Regions from separate parts of the Homo sapiens genome. Here region 1 is linked to region 2. Evidence: fine-mapped expression QTL. A gene starts in region 2. The other region holds a variant in brackets. All regions are shown on one strand. Distances are from middle to middle.

Region 1 (5,372 bases), 23 kb before region 2:
AGCGAGACTCTGTATAAAAAAAAAAAAAAAAATCCATGGCCTAATCTCTGGAACCTGTGAACGTGGGACCTTACATGGCAAAAGGGATTTTGCAGACACGATTAAGTTAAGGATTTTGAGATGAGGGGGTAAGCCTAGATTTCTGTGTGGGCCCAATATAATCACCAGGATCTTTATAAGAGGGAGGCAGGAAGATCAGAGTTAGTACTAGGAGATGTAACAATGGAATGGAAGTGAGGTCAGAGTGGTTCAAGGTCACCAGCCAAAGCATGTAGGTGGCCTCTAGAAGCTGAAAAAGGCAACAAAATGATTCTCCCTTAGAGCCTCCCAAAGAAACCAGCCCTGCTAACACCTTGACTTTAGCCGAGTGAGACTCATTTTAGGACTCTTGACCTCCAGAACTATAAGATTTTTAAAACCGGGCCAGGCGTGGTGGCTCCCGCCTGTAATTCCAGCACTTTGGGAGGCTGAGGTGGGTGGACCACTTGAGCCCAGGAGTTCGAGACCAGCCTGGGCAACATGGCGAAACCCCGTCTCTACTAAAAATACAAAAATTAGCTGGGCATGGTGGAGCGTGTCTATAATCCCAGCTACTCAGGAGGCTGAAGCAGGAGAATTGCTTGAGCCCAAGAGGCGGAGGTTGCAGTGAGCCAAGATTGCACCACTGCACTCCGCCTGGGCGACAGAGGGAGACTCAGTCTCAAAAAAAAAAAAAAAAAAAGTATAAAAATTGCGTTTTAGGCCACAGTGCGTGTGGCAATGTGTTCTAGAAACAATAGGAAACTAAGACACTTCTCCAGATTCCCTCTTCCCAAGCAACTGCCAAGGGGTATACAGCACGCCTTGCTGTCGTGTGTGATTGTCTCTCCTCTCTTCTTCCTTGCCTTACCTAATCCCAAGACAGAGCCTGAGGAGCTGATACCGTAGAAAACCAGTCCCAAAGATTCTCTCATTCACAGAGGAATGAAATAAAAGACGGATAATCCAAAAGACTAAATGATGCGTATATTGTTTTTCTTGGAGAAGGCTGAGGTGGGAGTGGAGGTAGAGAGAGGGTATAGGCAGGAAAGGACACAGTGGATGAAGCCGCCATAACAATGGATTGGGTTTGCTGGAAACCCAAAGTCAACCCAGGGTTAAAGAGTCCCTACAGATAATCCTCAGAGTGAGGAGTGGTGGGGAAGGGGCTGACAACCCTGGGCAAGCCCTGGAAGCCACACTGGAACTTCACAGCCACAGCACATGCTCTGCACCCTTGCCTGGATGAAACATCATGCAGCTTTCAAAAATGATTCAGAGGCCAGGTGTGGTGGCTCATGCCTGGATTCCCAACGCTTTAGGAGGCCGAGGTGGGTGGGTCACTTGAGGTCAGGAGTTTGAGACCAGCCTGACCAATATGGTGAAACCCTGTTTCTACTGAAAACACAAAATTAGCCGGGCATGGTGGTGCATGCCTGGAATTCCAGCTACTTGAGAGACTGAGGCAGGAGAATCACTTGAACCTGGGAGGCAGAGGTTGCATTGAGCCGAGATCTCACCACTGCACTCCAGCCTGGGTGACAGAGCAAGACTCTGTCTCAAAAAATAAATAAATAAAATAAAAATGATTCAGAGAATGAGATGGCAATGTGAAAAACATATTTTTCCAAAATTGGGCACAAAATGATAAATATATTCTAATTATAACTGTGAAAGGAAAAAAGATACATAGAAAAAAAGCCTCTGGTAGGTAACATAACATCAAAATGCCAACAGCAGTCATGTGGAGATGACGTAATCATGAGTGGTTATTTTCTTTTCCCCACATTTTAACTCGTTTTGCAGCATGATTATATTACTTTGATCATTAAAAAAATCTAAATGATTTTATTGGCTGGCAATATCTTGCATATATTCTTAAACAAATCACACACAAATCATATCTTCATGTGCAGGGAATTGTTGGAGAGGGTTCCAGGGGATCTGTGACTTCTGGGCTAATGCTGACCATGCCTCTCCTCTCATGATTCCTACTTAGCACCCATGTCACAAAATCCAGAAATCTGAGAAAATCAAATTGTTATCTGTTGGAGACATGAAATAAAACTGTCTTTTATCCATAAAATCAACAACACAAATTGCAAAGTGTCCATCATGGCTCTGTTTGTTTTCTCAGACTATAAATTGTTGGATTTTTTTCAAAATAGAAAATAAAAACAAAGAAAAAGCATGAGCACCATCTGG[T/G]GGGAAAGTTTACCATTAACATATTCAATGTATGTGTATCTTACCCCCAACCACCCAAACACACACCGTGCCACTCCTGACACCACTCCTTTTGCCGTTCCGCCTCCTTTGGAGGCCTAGTGGCACAGACCAGACCCCTCCCGGGTCGCGCCTGACCCTACCTTGGGGTGTTCCTCGGGCACATGCTGCTTGGAGAACTTGGCGAGCTGGACAAGCTCTGGGATGACCTCCTTGACATCGTAGCTGTTGGTGCAGTTCACCAGGGTGGTGGCCACCGAGTACAGGATGGTCTTGTCACTGGTCTGGAAGGCACAGGGTTGGGGAGAGGGAAAGCAGAAAGGAAACTTTAGGACAAACCTCTGCTTCCAGGATGCTCCCTCACGTGGCCGGCAGGTTGGTGTCGGAGGAGTGCAGCTGGTAGGGCCCATTCTGAGGAAAGACAGCAGCGCAGGAGAGGAACGGTTCTCCCCATAAAGGCAGGCAGCAGTGTCTCCTGCACCCTCCACAGTAGCTCTGACAGTATGAATAGGAGCTGTCCCACAAAGATCCTCGCTTTGCGCCTCTTCCACAAGCCCAGTCTAACACTTTCCCATCCAACTGGAGATGGGGTGGGAGCTGGACATTTTCCGGTCCTGGTGAAAATCTCTCCCATGCTTCCTCCATTTACTGGTAGAAAAGGGCCAGGGAGTTGGCCCAGCAGATGAGGAAAGGAGTCTGGGGGGGCCTGGGAGGGAGGGCAGGTTCCCAGAAAGGCCAGGCACAGCCTCTTTTATTTATTTATTTTCTTGAGGCAAGGTCTCTCTCTGTCACCCAGGCTGGAGTGCAGAGCTGGAATTCTAGCTCACTGCAGCCTCGATCTCCCAAGGCTCAAGCAATCCTCCCACCTCAGCCTCCCGAGTAGCTGGGATTACAGGTATGTGCCACCACGCCCAGCTAATTTTTGTATTTTTTGTAGAGTTGGGGTTTCACCATGTTGCCTAGGCTGGTCCTGAACCCCAGAGCTCAAGCCATCCGCCCGCCTCAGCCTCCTGAAGTGCTGGAATTACAGGCACGTGCTACGATGCCCTGCTTTTTTTTTTTTTTTTTTTTTTTTTAGCTGCCTCAGGTCCTTCAAGACCTCACCTCCTGAGGGCCCCAGGAAAACAAACTGCCCTCCTGTGCATCTTCCCATCTCTGGAAGGCATTGGGAGTCGGGAGTCCATTTTACAATCAGGTAAAATGAGGGCCAGAAAGGGGGAAATAACCAATCATGTTTATACAGGGGTAAGGAGTAGAGCCAGGAGGAAGACTGGGATCCATTCCCTGTGGGTCTGGACCCAGCAGACCTTTCCTGAGGTTTGTGGTCGGGCCAGACTCCCCGACACCTGCCTTGGCCAGCTCAAACATGGCCTGCAGGGCAGGGACGTCCTGGACAAAGTCGTCCTTCACATCAGCGTCCAGCGTGAGGTAGGCCAGGCCCTCCACTGCCCAGCGTCGGGTCCGAGTGTCTATGGACATATTGCACAGCCACCTGGAAGTGAGGAGGGAGCACACATGGGAAGGGGCCCAGGGCTAGGTCAAGAGGGTGAAGCGATTTCAGGGTGGTGAACCAGGGGTGAGGTCCCTTTCACACTCCACTAGAGCACACCCCAGAGACTCTTGCCCGGAAGGCGCATGAGGAGATGGAGGGCCTGGGAAACACAGCCCCCTTACTTGCGACACTGTTTGGCCAGTTTTTCTGTCGACCCTTCCGCAAACTGCCTGAGACCGTAGTCTGTGCCACCTGCAGAGCCGAGCTTACAGAGTCCCTGAGGAGGAGAGGAGACAGCAGACACATGCAGGATCAGAGACACCAAGGCTTGGGGATGAAGCCTTGCTCAAACAGGTTTCTATGGCCAGAACACTTCGCCCCTCTTTCTTTGCTTGGATCCACCTCTGTGCAGACTGTAAAACTCAGCTCAGGTGTCACCTCTGCTGAGATACTTTCCCTGATGCTCTGGGTTAGGGTAGAGGCCCATAAAGTTGCAAATTCTTGACCTGCCCCCTTCCCCCACCATTTTGACCCCACAGATGTATTGTGCCTGCCATTTTGAAAAACCAGCAAGACCAAGTTAACCATATCTGAAGCTTCAATGGGGAACCTTGTTACGGCACAGAAACTGACAGAGAAATCCTATCTTCTGGATAACAGATTCAGATGTGCAAAATTTTACCCAGAGAAAATTGGACTTTTCTTAGGGGGGCGGTTTCATAAGAGAAAATTCACTTTTGTCAGAAGCTAGAATTTGTTTTTAAAAAATTGATGCTGGGTGCGGTGGCTCACGCCTGTAATCCTCCCAGCACTTTGGAAGGCCGAGGCGGGTGGATCAGTTAGGCCAGGAGTTTGAGACCAGCCTGGCCAACGTGGTAAAACCCCATCTCTACTAAAAATACAAAAATTAGCAGGGTGTGGTGGCAGGCATCTGTAATCCCAGCTACTTGGGAGGCTGAGGCAGGAGAATCGTTTGAACCCAGGAGGCGGTGGTTGCAGTAAGCCGAGATCATGGGGGTTGCAGTGAGCCAATATCATGCCACTGGACTCCAGCCTGGGCTACAGAGGGAGACTCTGTCTGAAAAAATAATAATAATAATAATTTCAGGCCAGGCACAGTGGCTCACGCCTGTAATCCCAGCACTTTGGGAGGCCCAGGGGGGTGGATCACCTGAGGTCAGGAGTTCAGGACCAGCCTGGCCAACATGGCGAAACCCCGTCTCTATTAAAAATACAAAAATTAGCTGAGTGTGGTGGCACACGTCTGTAATTCCAGCTACTCTGGGGGCTGAGGCACAAGAGTCACCTGAACCTGGGAGGCGGAGGTTGCAGTGAGCTGAGATTTCGCTGCTACACTCCAGCCTAGGTGACAGAGTGAGACTCCATCTCAAAAAAACAAAAAGTAAAATGAAAGTGGAAAAAAAATACCTTATAGAAACTGATTAAGGAAAGTGACTCTTCAGAATTTGCTCTGAAAATGCATTCTGGACACAAGCTCCTCAGTGTTCATGTTGTTCATAAGCAGGGAGACGAACGTCCTCAGGGTTAAGCAGCAGAGTTCACGGTTCTGAATCTACATCCTCACAAGCCCCCTGGATATTGCCCTGTTCTGCAGGGGTCTGTGGCTGGGTCTGGTGCC
Region 2 (5,372 bases):
CATGCCACTGTACTCCAGCCTGGGCAACAAAGCAAGAATCTGTCTCAAAAAAAGCAATCATGCTCCTAATGGGGCCTGGCTCTCCTCTATCCCTCATCGATGTCTTCAATTCCCATGTATTTTATAATACATAGAAAGAGAGAGAGATCATGTTGCAGACATACTAAGTTATAATAATATTTCTAAGCCTCCATCTGGAATTTTTTTGGGGGGGGCGGGGGTGGGAGAGACAGAGTCTTGCTCTGTCGCCCAGGCTGAAGTGCAATGGCACATGATCTCAGCTCACTGCAACCTCCACCTCCCAGGTTCAAACAATTATCCTGCCTCAGCCTCTTGAGTAGCTGGGATTACAGGCGCCCCCACCACATCCGGCTATTTTTTGTATTTTTAGTAGAGACGGGGTTTCCCCATGTTGTCCAGGCTGGTCTCAAACTACTTGACCTCAAGTGATCTGCCCGCCTCAGCCTCCCAAAGTATTGGGATTATAAGCATGAGCCACTGTGCCTGGCCCCATCTGGAATTTAAAAGACCTGTGTTCTAGCCTTGGCTGGCTTGTGCCCTCAAACAAGCATCACAGATAGAAGCACCTGCTTAGCTGTTCTGTGCAGCCTGCCCATGCCACTTGCTGTCTCTATCTCAGAGTGTGGAGGTAGGGCTAGCCCTGCCCTGATGACCCACCTCCCTAACCCATTCCTACTAGGAATGAAGAGAGGGGCTGGGCAGCCAAGGGTTGTGGGAAGAGGCCCAGCTCACCTTCTCCTGAATGCTGGTGTTGAGTCTCCTCAGCATCTCCTGGAAGTTCTGGTTCCGTGGCTCGAGGGTGGCACAACGCTGCACGTCTTTGAAGGCCTGGTCCAGCTTCCCCAGGTGCTCCAGTGCCTGGCATCGCCGATACAGAGCCTTGATGTCCGAGGAGTTGATGTCGATGGCTATCGAGGGGAGACGGGGGATGAGGACCTTAGGGAGCCAGACTACAGACCACCAGCCCCACTGCCCCAACTCCAGGAAGCATGCTCTTGCTTCGTTTCTGTGTCTTCCTTGGAGATTATCCATCCATGTGGACTCTCTGGCCCTTACCTCCCCTTTGTTAGGGAGACAGTAAGATCCACAGAGTTTCAAGGTGGGAAGAGAGCTTGGGGGTCATGTCATCCAATTCTTAACGCTCCAGTCTCTGCTACAGGATCCCTGCCAGGGGCTTAACCAATCGGTGCTTGCATACCTCCAGCAGTGGGGAGCTCCCTCCTCCTCAAGACAGCCAGGCGGGCCTGGCGCAGTGGCTGATGCCTGTAATCCCAACACTTTGGGAGGCCAAGGTAGGCAGATCACAAGGTCAGGAGTTCGAGACCAGCCTGGCCAACATGGCGAAACCTTGTCTCTACTAAAAATACAAAAATTAGCTGGGCGTGGTGGCAGACGCCTATAATCCCGGCTACTTGGAAGGCTGAGACAGGAGAATTGCTTGAATCCGGGAGGCAGAGGTTGCAGTGAGTTGAGATCATGCCATTGCACTCCAGTCTGGGCAACAGAGCAAGACTCCATCTCAAAAAAACAAAACAAAACAAAACCCAAAAAACAAAACAAAACAAACAACAACAACAACAAAAGACAGCCAGGCAGCTTAATCAGAAAACATTTCCCTCTCCCTGCCTGAAATGTGTTCCCTGTAACATTGCCCAGCCCTGGAACCCTTGAGATGAAATCCAATCCTTCTTCCTTGTGACAGCCTTTTAGGAATTTGAAGGCAGCTCTCTGACCCACCTGGGAGTTGCCTTTTCTGGGCTAAATATTGCAGCTTCCCTCAACTGCTCTTCACAGGATATGTTTCCAGTCCCTTCTCCAGCTTGTTCTCTCCCTTCTGAAGTCACTCCATACTCACTGTTTCTTCCCCCAAAATGGTAACTAGATTAAAACCCAGGCCATGCAGAGGAGAATGTGACAGGGCAAGCTTGGAGGTGGGAGGGGCTCACCTCTGGAGGCATCTGAAGCTGCCTGGACGTAGCTCTCCTGAGGAAAGGGGAAGGAGAAGGAGACTCGGTTAATGTGGGCCCAATGCAGAGATGGCCAGAGAGTGTCCCCACAGTGTGGGGAGAGGGTTTCCTGGGGGAGCTGCAGGCTGTCAGAGGCCCAGGGCATGCTCCTCACAGGCATGGCAAAGAGGACAGGCTTTGACATCAGGCAAACCCAGGTTTGAATCTCGGCTCTGCTACTACTTGGGAGAGCTTGGGCAAGTTAATGAATGAAGCCCTCTGGATCCCGAGTTTCTTACCTGCGATAGGGGGAGGACAACAACAGCTATCTCACGGGCCATTAGTAAGATGCCATGAATAACACATGAAAGCACCTGGCATTGGGCTGATTCTGCTCTGGATGAATTTCTGTCTTTCCGGGGCATGGGTCAGGGGGTTGGAGGCACCCTTCTCCAACCCCAGGCATCCAGGAGAGTCGGCTGGGATGAAGGGCAATTTCTATCAGGGTGAAGGGGCTGCCACTCAGCCCCAAAGCCCCTCTGCCTCACTCCCACCCTGTGCCCTGCCCTGCCCCAGACCGTTTTCAGGCCACAGGCTGCCCGGTTCCGATAAAGCGTGGCCAGCAGGGCCTTGTCCTTGGTCAGCTTCAGGGCCTGGCTGTAGCTATTTGTGGCGGCCTTGTAGTCCTGGAGCTGGAAATGCCGGTTTCCTTCCTCCTTCAGCTGTACCGCTTCCACCTCTGCCATCTGCTGGGACAGGAGAAGCTCTGTCTGGTCAGCCCCTCACTGCAGACCCAGGGCTGGGCTCCTGGCCTGAGGTCCGGAGCTCCAGGGTCCCCTCACACCAGAGAGGATGGTGGGGATTCTGCCTGGAAGGGACCCACCCCCAGAACCCCCAAATCTATTGCCCCATGAGGACATTATAGCATTTGCTCAGAGCTTGGCCCAAGTTGAGAGTCCCTGTGCCTCACTCTCTGTCCCTCCCAGCCTGAGCAGGCGAAGCTGCTTAGTTTGTGCCAAAGGCCTGAACTCTCATTGCAGGTCTTAGAAGTTTGCCGTCTCCCTCCCCAGTCCAGGGCACACCCCAGGCCCATGCTCACTTTTTCAGCAAGGACGATGCTTTCGATCTGCCCTCTTGTGATGCTGCTCCCCTGAGCACTCCTGTGTCAACCTCCAGCCAGCCAGCCTCAGTCTGCCCCTCCCAGCCCCCACCCAAGAGATTTTCTTGCCTCAGCCAGTGGCTCTGGACCATATTTGGCCACAGGGGCAGGTGCCCCTGGAGTCTGTCACTGATACTCAGGGCCCTCCCCCTCCCCAGACTGGTCAGTCATGACCACGTGGAGGTGCTGACCAGCCTCCGCCCAAGCACCCCACTCTGGGTTATCCTGGTGGGGGGCTTAGGCACTAACATTCCAAAGAGTGACAGAAAGATCCAGAAGGGACAGGAACCCCCCAGCAGACTCCCTCCCTGGGCACAGCTCTAATGCACCTCTCCACATCTATCCCAGATAAACAGCTTCCTCTCCCTCCCCTCAACCATTGCTATTTTTGGGAGCAGAGTGACAGCTGAGGGGCTGACAGACTGGGACACACAGCAGTTGCCCAGATCCCAGACCAACTGGAGAGTTCCAGAAATACCTTTCTGGAGGGAGCGGGGAAGGAACAGGGGAAGAAAGTTCCTTCCCTTTTCCACTTCTGCGCAACACCTCAACCCACCCTGCTTTCACCTGTTCAAAATGTCTTTGCTTTTCAGAAAGACCAACAGGACTTGCTAACTCAGTTTAGTGTGAGTGAGTGGTTCGTTAGTTTCGGTCCACATGCGGTCTCCTGTTCCTCCCCCTGTGTATAGAGTGGATCTATTCAGCCTACCTCTCCCATCTGACTGTTAGCTCCCAGAGAGTGGGCTTTGTGTATCCCCCATCAGGCTGAGATCTCTTAGGGCAAGGGCTGGGTCAGACTGGGAATTCCCCCGAGACCAAGGGTCCTCCCCACCCGACTGGAAACTATCCTGGGACACACTGAGGCTCCCTCCTCAGAAGGGGGTCTTCCTGGGACAAGAACTATGTATTCACCATTGCAGAGGGGTCTCTCCTGAGGCAGGAATGTTTCTCCTTAGCTAACTGGGAGTTCCTGAAGCAAATTTATGACGTTGTCCCCAGTTGGACCCAGAACTCTTCTGCATTTCAGTGCCCTCAAGCCTGGGCTGTGAGCTTCCTCCTGGAAGGCAAAGACAGCATCCCATATAGCTTGTCCCCCAACCCCCTTCCTGCACAGGTTCTGGCACATTCAGTGTCCGAAGTGTGTTTCCTGAATGGAATGAATGGATGGATGAATGAATGAATGAATGAATGGTGTCTTCATGATGATGATTTCCTCCACTCACCTCTCATCCCTCTCCCCTCCACCCCACACATATCTTCAAACTTATCTGGCCAGAGCTGAGAAAGACACTGAAGAAAATCCCAGGTGGAATCATTCATACTAGATTCTACTCGCAGACCTGTGACCTTGGACACACAGCTATATGACCTTGGACAAGTTGTAGCGCCCTGCTGGACACAAAGCCCAGCCCTAACACATGTTTGTTGAATGAGCAAATAAATGAATGAATAGATGGATGAATTCCCTGCCTTCATGTTATCACAAGCCCTGGGCCCTTTTGTGGGGCAAGCTCTCTGCAGCAATGAGGTAATAGGATAAAGGATCCTGACATTGGCAGAGACCTGCGGTTCTGTGACTTTAGGTCCAAGGGATCTTATATTCAAATGCTGATTCAGTAATTCATTCCACAAGCATTTCTTAAACATCTTTTTGTTGTTGTTGTTGTTGTTGTTTGAGACAGAGTCTTGCTCTGTTGCCCAGGCTGGAGTGCAGTGGCACGATCTCGGCTCACTGCAACCTCCACCTTCTGGGTTCAAGAGATTCTCCTGCCTCAGCCTCATGAGTAGCTGGGATTACAGACATCCACCACCATGCCTGGCTAATTTCTGTATTTTTAGTAGAGATGGAGTTTCACCATGTTGGCCAGGCTGATCTTGAACCCCTGACCTCGTGATCCACCTGCCTAGGCCTCTCAAAGTGCTGGGATTACAGGCGTGAGCCACCGCGCCTGGCCCACATTTCTTAAACATTTATTATGTGTGAGGAACTGTGAAGCATAGAACACTGGTGAGGACAAGGATTTGTGTCTATGTTGTTCCCTCACATATTCCAAGCGTTTGTAATGGTGTGGGGCACAGTGGCTGACACCTGTAATCCCAGCACTTTGGGAGGCCAAGGCAGGCGGATCACCTGAGGTCAGGAGTTCCAGACCAGCCTGGCCAACATGGCGAAACTCCATCTCTGCTAAAAACACAAAAGTTAGCCGGGCATGGTGGCGGGTGCCTGTAATCCCAGCTACTAAGGA

What was found.
Region 1: its variant is fine-mapped to the expression of UNC45B in blood mononuclear cells (TOPMed, PIP above 0.99).

Annotation. Positions count from the first base shown.
Region 1 is chr17:35,168,475-35,173,846 of GRCh38, reverse strand. It overlaps UNC45B (unc-45 myosin chaperone B), which reads right to left. Exons shown (of 20, transcript NM_001267052.2): 11 at 3,916-4,010; 12 at 3,592-3,733; 13 at 2,385-2,525. Among named protein-coding and RNA genes, the nearest start is that of SLC35G3, 23 kb to the left of the region's middle. The variant T/G (reference allele first, on the strand shown) is at 2,224.
Region 2 is chr17:35,145,605-35,150,976 of GRCh38, reverse strand. It overlaps UNC45B (unc-45 myosin chaperone B), which reads right to left and starts at 3,160. Exons shown (of 20, transcript NM_001267052.2): 1 at 3,067-3,160; 2 at 2,546-2,713; 3 at 1,968-2,004; 4 at 754-929. The coding sequence starts at 2,713.